Linked DNA regions of Homo sapiens. The protein of the gene in region 2 purifies or fractionates together with the protein of the main gene of each other region. This does not show direct contact. Each region holds a gene or a part of one and is shown on either strand. Other genes may lie near its edges.

Region 1 (3,653 bases), on a different chromosome or scaffold from region 2:
AAATGAGTTAATATAATATTCCCTTTAAAGATTTAATTTTACCAACTGCACAGCCTGGGCTATCCGAAATCAGAGGGACTTCTGGTTGGATCATCCATGAGTCTCCATTTTGAAACTTTAAGAATCAAAGAAGGGTTAGAAAACTAAATGATGATGATATAACACTAAAAGCAGAGGCTTGGGAATTCAAATGAATTTAGATTCAAATGCTAATGCTACTGACAGCTTTGTGACAGCAAGTCTGAGTCTCATCATTTATAAAATGATCACTTATAGAAAGGTTATGAGAAAAAAAGTACAATTCATATAAACATTTAGATAGCTGATGCTAATACTATTACTACTGTTGTTGCCACTATAAGTTAACATTTATATAATAGTGCTTACTCCATGTCAAGTACAATTCTAATTATTTTGCCCATAGAAATTTATTTATCCTAATAATCCTATGAAATAGGTAGCGTTCATAACTCCATTTACAGATAAGACAAATGAGGTAAAGAGCCCCTAAGTAACTTACCCAAGGTGACCCTGCTAGTGTGTTCCAAAGCTAGGATTTAGATGTTCATTGAAGCATAGTTCCCTCCCTCTCTATAGAGCTTTAATCAAATCTTTAAATTTCACAGGTGAACAGTGTTATATGAACAGCAGAATACTTTAAAAAATACCTCCAGATTAGAGGTTCTTAAACTTTAGTTGAAATTTTTCTTACTCTACTTATATGGCAAAGTAGGAGAGAGTACCCTAAAATTGTAAATAGCTGCTTCCAAAGTACATGCAGGTAATAACAACATCCACTATTTTTCAAACAGCCACTACATGACAATTATGAAGCCAGATACTACACATGCCTTATTTAATGTCCCCCAAATCTCAGAAGATATTATTCCCATTTTAAAGTGGAAGCATGTTCAAAGAGATTATATAAATTGTGAGGCTACTACGTGGCCAGAGTAGTACTTGAACTTAAGTGGGCTGTATTACAGAACTCATATTCAATACACAATGCTGTCATTCAAAGTGGTTGCTTTGCATAGTTACTTCTTTAAATTACTTCTAAACTTCAACAAGCAAAGAATCACTTTGGTGCATGAATGGAATGCCCTGCACCTCTTCAAATGCTCACTCCAAGTCCATTCATGAGGTTTACTCTACTCTTGTGTATAGCCTCTTTGGGGATGTTGTAGAACTACTAGAGTCTTTTTCTAGAAATTCAATCTTTAGGAAATCATTGTCAAAGAATGGACTTTAAATAGGAAGAACACTTTTTTTTTTTTTGGCTATAGAATCGTCTTAAGTGCATGAGATATACAAACAATACAAACACACCCATGAATATATACACATAATGTCACCATATCGGTAACTTGAGGTTGTTCAAAATGTTTATATTTAGAGGAAAATATAAGAGATTATCATCATTAATAGCTACCAATATTAAATACCTGTCATTTATTTTTAGTAACATCTAGAATGGCCTTGATCACTTAAAACATCTTGCCCCAGTCTTACACAGTCCACAAATTTTTCTTTCTGTTCAGAATCTGCAAAGCATTACTCTTACTCTGTATCTAGAATCTACCTGTTAACAGCTCATATGAATAATTAAAGAAGGTTTAATTTTGGAATTGTACTTAATCCATCTTACTGCTAGTCACTGTTACTGTGAGATCTGCATCAGAGAGTTCTGACAGTAGAATCAGCAAAATGAAAAACGGCTCACAGCACAAACTCTTCCTGCTAGGATTTATCACTACTTAAAAATAGCAAATGGCTGCTGCTAGTATCTTAAAGACTTCTCCTACCTTTGTTTATCTAGTTAAATTTATTATTACTTTTCATACATACATACTGAGCAGACTGTTGTAGTAGGTGTTGGTTTAAAAGTTAACTAAGTTACTCTGCTTAATATTTTCCACCATTAATAGGTATATTAATTTTTAGGCCCTAATTTCATATTTAAAATGTGGGCTAGAATTGAGACCCAAATTAGTAAACCTTGAAGACTCATGCTGTAGAGTTTCAAAGTAACTGCCATTGCCACACACTCTTTTCAGCCAGCCAGGTCAGAACTGGCTGTGTCATACTCTTCCTCGAGCTTGACTCTTTGGCAGTGTCATACTTTTTCCCGGTTGTAGGCAGAATTTACAACCATCTAACAAAAAGACTAAGGACCCTTGGATTGAAAGTTTCCTAAAATCTTTTCTTTTTCTGGGCTTTTTATAATAGTTCACCATCGGCTTATCTAAGAGATAATCTAACAATATTATATACTGTACAAGACATTATTTTTCTCAAACTCTGCTTTTTAAAACTACTATTACAAAAAACCCTAATTACTACTAAAAAAAACTTCATAAAAATAATTATTAAATGTGACTGCAATTTGAAACCTCAAAAAATTAATATTTAATGGAATAAAATGTATAACCTAAAAAGTTTTATTTAGTACAACAGAAATGCTTACTAAAAATCAAAATGTTTTAAATCCTAGATTATTTGACACATTTTGGCTTAGAAATTATTCAACAGATTTTTTTAAGTATAGGACAGTAAAAGTTATGTTATTCCATTATATAAAGCTTTTAAGGAAATATCTGAAAAATATTAACCAAACTGAGTTACAAATACTTACTTGTAAATAGGTAATAACTCATGTCTTTTGATGGCACTGTCTGATTTTGTATCACTGTCATACAACCTTTGCACAAGTCTTCCCGTTCGAAGTGGAGGGCCTAACTTGTCCATATTACTATTAAAATATATAAAGGTGTACCCATAAGGAGATTGCTACTGCTTCTTTATATAAAGTTTTTTTAAAAGACATTATTCTGGTTCATCAGATATCTACTCCCCAAGTCCTTAATTTTATCTGACTGTCAAGGTAAGAACTAATGTCCAAAAGAATCCTCAGAGAGTTCATACAATGTCCATTATTAGGTCTGAAAATTCTGACTACACAGGCTACCCTACACATCCAAACAAATGTCAAATTATACACAGCAGGGCAATGGAATCAATGAAGAAACTTAGGAAGAACAACTATTTCAAAAAAAAAATCATGAAGCTATAAGTGAACTGAATGCTGTTATTCACAAATGATTTTTCTTCCTCCCAGAATTCATGGAAACTTTCTCTACTCTTCATATTATTTATTTCCGTGCTTTTTAAAATTCCAAAAATAAGGAATTGACTAAATAACATGTACTCCATTTGACTTTCTAACTCCACTGACTTCTAACAAAAAAGTGACTTTATTTCTGAAATGTATCCAAAGTAAAACAGGACTCGGCATGGAAAAAAAAAACATGGATGACAATTCTAAAAATCACATATAATAATGGTAAGGGGCCTATATATACACACACACATTTTGACCAAAATTATAAAGGCTCTCCATCTAGAGGATAGCAGGACAAACTGCAGGTTTGTAGGATATTTCACTGTTTTAAATCAACCAACCAAATAACTGAATCATATAAACTATCACCAACCAACATCTAGTCATAGTAGGAAGCAGGGAAAATTGAATTATGACATTAGGAAACAATCTTATTTGCTACTGAATAACACATCACTGCTTGTTAACTTTAAAAGTCTGTTCTTTTTAAGAGATATTTGCTCACTCATTTCTTTACTTATTCACTGACTAT
Region 2 (3,653 bases):
GGGCTTCCTTCTCGAACACAGGCACTCCTCTTTGTGGTGGGGAATCGTTTTCAACTCAAAACCTGCTTCTGCTCCCCTTCTCCCCCAATCCAACAGGGAGGCCAAAATAAGCCAGTCCTCAACTCCTTCCTTCCCTGCATCCCTCTCTGCTTCCTTCTGTCCCCCATACCTGGCCAGGACAAATGGAATACCTATCCCATACAATAGGCCTTCGAGTATTTGAAGGTGCTATCACATCTCCCCTAAAATCTTCTCCAAGCTAAAATTTCTCTATTCCTACACTGGTTCTCATAAGGCAGGCTTAAATATCCACTTTGGACAAGCTCTGGTTTGTAAATGCCATTCCTGGAATGTGGCACAGAACAGAATCCGTCCCCTATGATTCTTTAAGTATCCAAATGTGGCCTGACCAGGAAGACCTCAGGGGAACTTTTTCTTTTTTAAATCTGCCAACTCTGCTTCTATTTTCATAGCCCAAGACTGAGTCCAATTCTTGGTTCCTGAAATACGTTTTCTCTTTAAATCTTGGACCCAACCAGAGATTCACAAGCTCTTTTCTTTTGGAACTTCTGCCAAAACCTTTCCCCACCTTTGTGCCCACTTTCTTACCCTCATCTACTGGCCTATCCTGTAGTTTTGCAATGGATTGTTTTTTAACTTAAATAAAATACAATTTTTTAAAATCCCTGCTGGGTTTTAGCTTGCTATTTGGACCCGGCATTCTATCTGGCAGAGGTAACACTTTTGAACCTTGCTTCAGTCTACCAACATGTCCTCCCAAAGCAATCTTACTGTGAACATCTTAACTGGTGCCTAAATGGTGCTAACTTTGACACCAAATGCCTCTTCAGTCTGGTGTGTTTCAGCGGGGCTCTCAGAACACTGACTCATTGGCAGCCAACAATTCTGTGAGGTTTTAGATGGAGCCTGGCCTCAGTACCAAAAGGCTCAGTCATCAAGTAAACATATTCCTCATGAGTTTCCTGTTCACGGACTCCTGGGGGCTGGGCTAAGGGCTGGACCATGGTAAAAAGGAAACAGAGGAGATAACAAAAGGAATCAAAATCATGGTACCTGAGCTGAGACACACACAGTAACCCTCCATGCAAGAGAAACTGGCCTCGAGCTGAGAGATGGATCCCAAGTTGCTACAGCTGTGGGGATGAGTGATAAGAAGTGACAGGAGAAATCTGCCTTGATTTGTAAGTATTTGTGGAAGCTATAATCACAAAGAGGGATAAAAATAGGAGTGCTTTCTATGCTTTCCAAGTTAAAGCACAGAATAAGGGAAGGAAGGTGGGTCCAGGAGGAAGTCAGTGTTTATGAGCTTTTTGCATACCTCCAGCTTATGCATGCTCTGTGCTTCTCGTGAGCTTTGTGGTCGAGACAGAAATAAACTGAGCTCCTCACAAAATGGCAGTTACTGCACCAGCTTCTTCTCTTGCCCTGCCCTGTCCCTCTTCCCACTGGGCTTAATTTTGAGTTCGGCTCTTAATGACACATCTCTGGTTGTCTCCTTTTGATATTTTCTCCCTTTGCTATTTTCTAGGAGATGGATTGCATTGTCAACCAAATGCTGCATATTGCCCAGTACCTGGAGTGGGATCCCACAGAGCTGAGGCCTGTGAGTTTCTATAAGGATGGGGTGGCTTTGGAGTGAGCTTCTAAGACGGGAGGGGGACACACTCAAGACATGAATGAGTGTTAACCCTGCAGGTGCTCCCAGACTCATCTTCTTATAGGCAGCTTCTTTGGAGTCCTGCACTTTACCTCCTACCTCTCTGATAGGAAAAATGTAGGCAGCAGGAAAACGTGCAGACATAACTGAAATAACCATGCTAATCTTTTCACCAGAACTAAAATGTTATAGCAGAAATTCATCAGTCAAAGAATTTAGAGAGAACTGTAGAGATTTCTATTAGAAAGAATTGTAGAGATCTTCCTCAATCACCAGATAATATGAATTATAAGAATAATTACATTTGGGGGCTCCTATGTGTCAGGTATTTTGTTATTCACTTTACATTCATTTTCTCTAATCCCTGCTACAGTGCCACAAACACAACAATATTATTTCCATTTTTACAGATAAGCAAACCAGAGCCCACAGAGTCAGGGTGACTGGCCCAAGGCCCAAGGGCAGAGCCAGACCTGGAAGCCTGGCCTCCTCACTCCCAGTCTGCTCTATTCACACTTAACAGGAGGGGAAAGGGGTAAAACACAAACCAGATAATGCAAGATGAACAAGACAGCAGAGGCAGAAGGCAGGTAGACATGTCGATGATGAAAATGGACAATGATTGCTCTTTGGATTCCACAGATATTGAAGGAGATGCTGCAAGGGATGGACTACGACCGGGACGGCTTTGTGTCTCTACAGGAATGGGTCCATGGAGGGATGACCACCATCCCATTGCTGGTCCTCCTGGGGATGGATGACTCTGTAAGTCAACAAGCTGGAGTTCAGAGATCTCTTGCCATTCAGGAACATTGGGCTTCATGTTAATATCAACATATCACTTTGGCTTCTGCTCCAGACTGCCCAACAGACGTGCCATGACCAGCCCCAAAGTCCTCTCTATTTACATTATTTTGTATCCATTAGTGCCTGAAGTATATTCATTTGACAGACATTTACTACATTATTACTACTTTAAAAATACTGTTCTGCATGCTGTGAGGGAATACAGACACATTATCTGCCTGCAAGAACCTTATACTCAACCAGGCAAAGGGCCACAAACTTCAAAGAAGAATTCTGTCTTTTCAACAAATTAGGTTTAAAAATGCTAAGAGAATTGGGGAAGGAAGGGTGAGAGGAAAGAACGAAGGGAGAGAGGAAAAAATACGGATCTGTTGTGGGGGTGGCTTCCATTAGTGGTATCTTATTTAATAATCAAAACAACCAGATAAGGTAAATATTTTTATCCCAATTTATACAGATGGAAAACTGAGGTTCTGACCCTAAGGAGCAAAAGGAGGAGTGAGGATTTGTCTCTGACACCAAAGATGTTGCACTTTGTAATATCCCACACATGAGAGTTAGGCCAGTGGGAAGAAACCTTGGAAGGTGTTGACTTGTCCCTGAAGAATGCATGAGATTTTGATGTCCCATTCTTGAGAATAAAGAGCAGGTGGCCTTAAAGACCTAGAGAGAGTTTATGGCTTGGAGAACAGCTTGATTAAAAACACAAATGAAAGAAAGTTCTGGGTGTGTTAGGCAAATCTCCCATTTGATCAGAGTAGGGCATATGTGTACAGGCTTAATGTGAAACTGATTGTTATATATACCTTCATCTGACCCAGTTACTGTATTCTCCACCTATTTACCAAGTGAACTCACTTCCATGCATGAGGTAGGGAAGACTAAAACTAGTAGGAGCACAAATGGTGACATTAAGCGTTTACTAGTCACACCAGTTGTGTGACAACACTACTTTGAGATTACAGATCTCAAAGATTACACCTCTTTGAGACTATTCCATAGAGAGGAACAGGGCAGCAAGTGCAGCTGGGTGAGCCTCTAGCTGACCAAGTTGCCTATAATATCTTCATTTCATAGCTCTGCAATTCAGGACTAAAGCTGAGCCCCCATTTCTGAAGCTCAAGAACTATGAATCTTGCAATCATTTCATAGCATGTCCAGTGCTTTC
Region 3 (3,653 bases), on a different chromosome or scaffold from region 2:
TCACTTTTGATTGCTAACTTATTAGTTGTTCTCTCTCTAGTGATGGATACTGAAGACTCTGAAGTGGAGGAGACTGCACCAGAAATACAACAGGGTGCACTAATGAAAGTGCCAAAGGTTGGAGAAGAAACGGGGGCAGGGAGGAAGTGTAAGAAGGTAGTACCAGATTTTATTTCCCATTCATGTCAAGTGGATCAGCTTCTGTTAAAGATTCTAGGGAGTCTCAAATGGAACTAACTCTTCCTTTCAGGAGCCACCCATGGATCAAGCAAGGATTCTTGGGAAGGCACAAGGCAAAGATGATAAAATGGTTACCCAAGGCAGATCTAGCCCACTGACAGGTTTTGTTTAACCTGCAATGTTAGCACCTAAAATCTTATTAATTTTTATTAGTTACCAACAATTAAAAATTGGAAGAGCTTTTGAGGTAGACTGACATAGTGATGGCCCCAAATTTGTTCATGTCTCTCTGTATCCAAGCACTTGGGTAAATCCACACTGACTCTGGACTTGGCCACATGAGAATAACAAACATGACCTATGCAGACTTCAAAAGCACCATTGCATCTGGCCACTGGGGCTCGCCCTCTTGCTGCTCTTGTAACTCTGAGAATGCCCACTTGGGGCTAAGCTAAGCTGCTGTATGATGACTCATAACCCAGATACACACCTCTTTCTCTCTCTCTCTCTCACACACACACACACACACACACGCACAATTAGCCAACCCCTAGAAGCAGAGCAGCCTAGGTGACCACAGCTAACCTCAGACACACGAGTGAGCTCACCCATGCCCAGCCCAAGCTGCCACCCTGCAAAATGGTGAGCTAAATCGTGGTTGTTTTAAGCCAACGTTTTGGATGGTGTTTTTAAGTGAGACAGAATCTATTTTGCCCAGGCTGGTCTCAAACTCCTGGGCTAAGGTGATCCTCCTGCCTCAACTCCCCCAGCAGCTGGGAGTACAGGCATGTGCCACCATGCCCAGCTTGGATGGTTTTCTCATGCAGAAAAAACTGAAGGAGTCCACATAAAAATACATATTCCCAATTAAAAAAAAAAATCTAAAGACCTTACAACACTGGGACCACATTCCTACAGGGCAACAACCAGCTAATGGGGGCAGTGGTTATTACCCTGACCCCAGCCATGGCATGTATTTCCCAATGTGTCTTTATCATCTTGCCCATGCTGGGGTCAAGTTCTGCTGTCATGTCATCTCAGCTGGGTGTTGATTTATGGTAAAGAAGAAAGTGAAATACTACATTCCACATACACAAGTTACTATCAAAAGTGAGAAAACCAGTACAACTACTTTGGAAAACTGTCAGTATCTACCAAGGCTAATCTATGCATACCTTATGACTCACCAATTCCACTCCCAAATGAATACTCAGGAAAAATGTGGACACATTTTTCAGAAGATGTACAAAACATTTATGGTGGCACTATATCTGAGAGTCCCAAACTGGCTATCAACAAACTAGCAACAATTCCCATCAACAGTAGATAAGATGTGGCATATTCATAGGGATCAATCTCACAGATAATGCCATACACGAGAACTCAAAGACACATGAGTATGTGCTGTTTGACTCCACTTAATATACAGTTCAAAAACAAACAAACTAAATGTGGTGTTAGAAGTCAGGTGAGGCCAGGCATGCAGGCTCACACCTGTAGTTCCAGCACTTCGGGAGGCCGAGGCGGGCAGATCACAAGGCCAGGAGTTCAAAACCAGCCTGGCCAACATAGTGAAACCCCATCTCTACCAAAGATACAAAAATGAGCAGGCCGTGGTGGTGCATGCCTGTAGTCACAGCTACTAAGGAGGCTGAGGCACAAGAATCACTTGAACCCGGGAAGTCAGGGTTGCAGTGAGCCAAGATCATGCCACCGCACTCCAGCCTAGGTTACAGGGTAAGACTCTATCTCCCAAAAAAAAAAAAAAAAAAAAAAAAAAAAGTAGTCAGGTGAGTGGTTACCCTTGGGTGGAAGAGAAGTCAGGTGAGTGGTTACCCCTGGGTGGAAGAGAAGTCAGGTGAGTGGTTACCCTTGGGTGGAAGGGAACACAGGGCAGGGGAGGTGGTTCTGACATGCTGGTGATGCTGCCCTGTGACCTGGCTGCTGTTTACATGGATGTGTACACTTGAAAATTCATCAAGCTGTGTATTTAGGCCCTTGTAAAGGTCAATACATAGTTTGAGCTTAAAAACTTTTAAAAGTGGGAAAACAAGACCAAGATGGCCATGTTTAAAGACAATTCCTACATGTTTAATTGTGACAAAAAGAACAGCTGCCACTATGAAACGAATTATAAAGCTATGACCAGAACACATAAAAACACCTGATGAGCTGGGAGAAAAGACCTAATGTGCAACACCCAGCCTACCTCACTCACGTGCATTACCTGCCTTAGCCCTGTGGGCTCTGGGGCTTGCAACCACTGACACAGGAATCCAAGCCTTTTCCATAAACCTTGTCATCATTTATCAGCCTGGAGAGAAGGAGTAGGTTTATTATCTAAAAATCAGTTACTTTCCTAATGCTCATCTACAGATTAGTTGAAAATAGCCACTGGAGAGAGTTGTTGGGAGAAATGAAGACGATAATGTCTCTAAACCCTTAAGACAGTACCAAGGAGACAGTTTACGCACACAATGAATTATAACTTTATTTATAGCAGTGTTACTAATGATTGCAAAGTCTTGTTTTCATTTTTTATTTTTTGAGATGGAATTTTGCTCTTGTTGCCCAGACTGGAGTGCAATGGCACGATCTCGGCTCACCACAACCTCCGCCTCCTGGGTTCAAGAGATTCTCCTGCCTCAGCCTCCTGAGTAGCTGGGATTACAGGCACCCACCACCATGCCTGGCTAATTTTGTATTTTTAGTAGAGACAGAGTTTCTCCTTGTTGGTTAGGCTGGTCTCGAACTCCTGACCTCAGGTGATCTGCCCACCTCAGCCTCCCAAAGTGCTGGGATTACAGGTATGAGCCACCAGGCCCAGCCTTTTTTTTTTTTTTTTTTTTTGAGACAGGGTTTCGCTCTGTCACCTAGGCCGGAGTGCAGTGGTGTGATCCCGGCTCACTGCATCCTCGACCTCCTGGCCTCAATCAATCCTCCCACATCAGCCTCCCAGGTAGTGAGGACTACAGGAACATGCCACCACGCTGGCCAATTTTTGTAGAGATGGGGTTTCTCTACGTTGCCCAGGTTGGTTTTGAGCTCCTGAGCTCAAGAGATCCATCCACCCACCTCAGCCTCCCAAAGTGCTAGGATTACAGGCATGAGCCACCTTGCCCAGCCACAAAGTTTGCTTTTTGCCTGCTTTTGACAGGGTCTTGCTGTGTCACCCAGGCTGGAGTGCAGTGGTGCAATCATGGCTCACTGCAGCCTCAGCCTCCTGGGTTCAAGCGATCCTCCCACCTCAGCCTCCCAAGTAGCTAGAACTAAAGGGGTGCACCACCACACCTAGCTAAATTTTTTAAATTTTTTGTAGAACCAGGGTTTCACTATGTTGCCCAGGCTGGTCTTGAACTCCTGGGCTCAAGCAATCCTCCTGGCTTGGCCTCCAAAGTGGTGGGATTACAGGTGTGTACCACCACACCTGGCCTACAAAGTCCTCTTTAAAATTAGAGGTGCCCCAAAAGTTG
Region 4 (3,653 bases), on a different chromosome or scaffold from region 2:
AATTTAATGCAGGCCAGGCATGGTGGCTCATGCCTGTAATCCCAGCACTTTGGGAGGCCCAGGCGGGTGGATCACTTGAGGTAAGGAGTTCAAGACCAGCCTGGACAACATGGTGAAACTCCATCTCTACTAAAAATACAAAAATTAGCTAGGCCTGGTGGCGTGTCTCTATGATACCAGCTACTCAGGAAGCTGAGGCAGGGAGTCACTGGAACCTGAGAGGCGGAGGTTGCAGTGAGCTGAGATGGCTCCACTACACTACAGCCTGGGCGACAGAGCAAGACTTGATCTCAAAAAAAAAAAAAAAAAAAAAGCAACGAAATTAAGCATCAAAAACAATGCTGAATAAAAACAGAGTACAAAAGGATACATTAGAGAAGGAGAGCAATTATATACAGTTTTTATTTATTTATTTTTTTCTGAGGCAGTCTCACTCTGTCACGCAGGCTAGAGTGCAGTGGCGTGATCTTGGCTGATTGCAACCTCAGCCTCCCTGGTTCAAGTGATTCTCCTGCCTCAGCCTCCTAAGTAGCTGGGACTATGGGTGCACACCACCACGCCCAGCTAATTTTTGTACTTTTTAGTGGAGAAGGGGTTTCGCCATGTTGGTCAGACTGGTCTTGAACCCCTGAACTCAAATAATCTGCCCGGCTTGGCCTCCCAAAGTTCTCAGATTACAGGAGTGAGCCACCACACCCGGCCTATATACAATTTTAAAACAGGCAAAACAAACACGTGCTTAGGTTAGTGGTTACCTCTGCGGAGGTGGGAGGAGATGGATCAAGGAGGGGTATGTGGGGAACTGTATTTATAACATCCTATTTCCTAAGCTGAGTGATGAGTACATATTAATAGTTTGTTGTAATAGTCTCTGTACCTATAATAAAAACTTAAAGTTAGTGGGTTGGTTTTTTTTTTTTAATTTCCTCTTTTTGGAGAAACAGGATCTTATTCTGTCACCCAGGCTGGAGTACAGTGGTGCAATCTCAGCTCATTGCAGGCTCGACCTTCTGGGCTCAAGCAATCCTCCCACCTCAGCCTCCTGAGGAGCTGAGACTACAGGCATGCGCCACCATGCCAGGCAAATTTTTTAATCTTTACTAGCGATAAGGTCCACTATGTTGCCCAGGCTGGTCTTGAACTTCTAGGCTCAAGCAATCCTTCCACCTTGGCCTTCCAAAGCACTGGTATTACAGATAGGAGCCACCGTGCCTGGCCAAGTTAGTGTTTGAAAATAATTCATGTTAGGCATGGTGGCTCACACCTGTAAACCCAGCACTTTGGGAGGCCAAAGTGGATGGATCAATTGAGGTCAGGAGTTCAAGACCAACCTGGCCAACATGGTGAAAACCCATCTCTACTAAAAATACAAAAATTAGCTGGGCATGGTGGCACATGCCTGTAATCCCAGCTACTCAGGAGGCTGAGGCAGGAGAATCGTTTGAACCTGGGAGGTGGAGGTTGCAGTGAGCCGAGATCACGCCACTGCACACCAGCCTGGGTGACAGAGTGAGATTCCATCCAAAAATAACATAAAATAAAATAATTTAGAGGGCAAAGTTCCTTCATCCAAGCTTAAGAAAGAAAAAGACATTTAACTCTTTGCTCTCCTTGTTTTAGCACTTAAAGTCCCACATTCCAGAAAACCCCTAAGTCCCAGGTCCACCAGGGTGGTTTGTCATCCTATAGTGATCCTAAGACAATACGTAAAACATGAGCATGTTTAGGGGGCTACCTTGGGGTATGTGTGTTGACTTTTGTTTCTTTTATTTAAGCCACCTGAAACAAAGTGTTTTCTACTCACTGGTTGGAAAAATAAAAACAGACATTCTTGTATCTCTGTATTTCTTATAGTGTGCATGTATTCCAGGTACATGTAATGTATGAACATGCATAAATAAATAAATACATGGAGGAAAAAGAAAAGAAGAGAAAATCTGAGGTAACTGACTATCAGTACCAAAACAACACTAGGATCAGTTTCTAGAACCTAACGACACACAATAAATATTTGTCAAATGAATCAGACAACTGAAAACACCAGACCAACGTCAGCTCCTTTGCTGAGCAGGAAGGAGAAGCAATAACCAGCCATTTGGAGGCTGCCCACCTGAACATGTGTCTTCAGCAGGTGACTGTGCATCTGCAGCTCTCTTGGCACCTCTACAGACTTCATGCCAACAAACCGCAGGAGGTCGAGGGGCACACCTGTACTCCAGGTGGTGATTTGCGCTTCTGGCTGAGCCAGGCCCTGCCAGTGGGCCTGCAGGTTCAGGGCAGGGGGCCTGTAGTGGGCCATGTTATTTAAGTGATCATTCAACTTGGCATAGTAGGAGGATTTTATTTCAGACACCTCCTCCTGCGTCATGAGTCCGCCAGCAATGAGGTGCTCTGCATATGTGTCTGGAATGCTCTTTCGAGCTCTGCCCAAGAAAGAGAAGAAACAAAAATCAGTCTGACCTGTAACAATCTAATAGAGACAAGGAGAGTCACTGTCAAGGGCGGTGGAGTGTCAGCACTCTAAAAAGGCATTCGACAGGTGCAGTGGCTCACACCTACAATCTTAGCATTTTGGGAGGCCAAAGTGGGTGGATCACCTGAGGTCAGGAGTTCGGGACCAGCCTGGCCAACGTGGTGAAACCCTGTCTCTACTAAAAATACAAAAAATTAGCTTGGCATGGTGGCGGGCGCCTGTAATCCCAGCTACTCAGGAGGCTGAGGCAGGAGAATTGCTTGAACCTAAGTGGTAGAGGTTGCAGTGAGCCGAGATGGCACCACTGCACTCCAGCCTAGGCAACAAAAGTGAAACTCCGTCTCAAAAACCAAATAAATAAAATTAAAAATAAATAAAAATAAAATAAAAAGGCATTCAGGAAAAATGTTTTGGAACTTGACAGAAGTGATGGTTGCACCACTTTGTGAAGGTAAATAAATGCCACTGAGTTGTTCGCATTAAGACAGCCAATTTTATATTATGTCACGTTCATCTCAATAAGTTTATAAAACAGAAACAAAATAAATAAACAATGTTAAATATAATAAATTAATTTAATAAATGAAGGCACTCATAGTAACAACCTCTTTTCCAGGCAACTGAGAGAAAACAAATTTATAAGTTTTTGTCTGCATCCAAATAGAAATAATTAACAGAGTTTTTCTATGATTTGGTAAATTCTGACAATTATTTCCAAGACTGACCCACACTGTCTATCCAATCAGCACCCCCCTTTATCTAAAAAGGTATGGAACCCAAAGTTGCTCCAGTCTGAAAGTTGCAATCTTTCAGGTTGCATCTATCATCCTTTAACTACAATCATCAACACCTGGGTGTTACAATAAATGTCACTCTACATTCATGTCATACTTTCAACTATAAAGTCTATTCACATATATTATCATATTTAATCCTGATAAAAGAGAGAAGAAAGCAGGATAGATTTTAAAGCTAACGCCCTGGGGCCAGGTGAGGAGGCTCATGCCTGCAATCCCAGAACTTTGGGAGGCCGAGACGGGCAGATGGCGAGACCAGCTTGGGTAACGCTGTGAGACCCCATCTAGTCAGGCATAGTGGCAAGCGCCTGTAGTCCCAGGTTCTCAGGAGGTGGAGGCGGGAGGATCGCTTGAGCCCAGGAAGTCGAGGCTACAGTGAGCCG

The links.
Region 1: the proteins of DGKG (region 2) and ZC2HC1A purify together in Homo sapiens (affinity purification with mass spectrometry; one large-scale study listed by BioGRID and IntAct). This does not show direct contact.
Region 3: the proteins of DGKG (region 2) and FBXW8 purify together in Homo sapiens (affinity purification with mass spectrometry; one large-scale study listed by BioGRID and IntAct). This does not show direct contact.
Region 4: the proteins of DGKG (region 2) and DHTKD1 purify together in Homo sapiens (affinity purification with mass spectrometry; one large-scale study listed by BioGRID and IntAct). This does not show direct contact.

The regions. Positions count from the first base shown.
Region 1 is NC_000008.11:78,711,089-78,714,741, reverse strand, and holds part of ZC2HC1A (zinc finger C2HC domain-containing protein 1A), read right to left. Parts: intron 2,753-3,653; coding exon of another isoform or gene 2,636-2,752; intron 116-2,635; exon of another isoform or gene 43-115; intron 1-42.
Region 2 is NC_000003.12:186,278,641-186,282,293, reverse strand, and holds part of DGKG (diacylglycerol kinase gamma), read left to right. Parts: intron 1-1,549; coding exon 1,550-1,624; intron 1,625-2,320; coding exon 2,321-2,443; intron 2,444-3,653. UniProt on the Homo sapiens protein: Diacylglycerol kinase that converts diacylglycerol/DAG into phosphatidic acid/phosphatidate/PA and regulates the respective levels of these two bioactive lipids.
Region 3 is NC_000012.12:116,913,950-116,917,602, reverse strand, and holds part of FBXW8 (F-box/WD repeat-containing protein 8), read right to left. Parts: intron 1-3,653. UniProt on the Homo sapiens protein: Substrate-recognition component of the Cul7-RING(FBXW8) ubiquitin ligase complex, which mediates the ubiquitination and subsequent proteasomal degradation of target proteins.
Region 4 is NC_000010.11:12,096,454-12,100,106, reverse strand, and holds part of DHTKD1 (2-oxoadipate dehydrogenase complex component E1), read right to left. Parts: intron 2,424-3,653; coding exon 2,111-2,423; intron 1-2,110. UniProt on the Homo sapiens protein: 2-oxoadipate dehydrogenase (E1a) component of the 2-oxoadipate dehydrogenase complex (OADHC). Participates in the first step, rate limiting for the overall conversion of 2-oxoadipate (alpha-ketoadipate) to glutaryl-CoA and CO(2) catalyzed by the whole OADHC.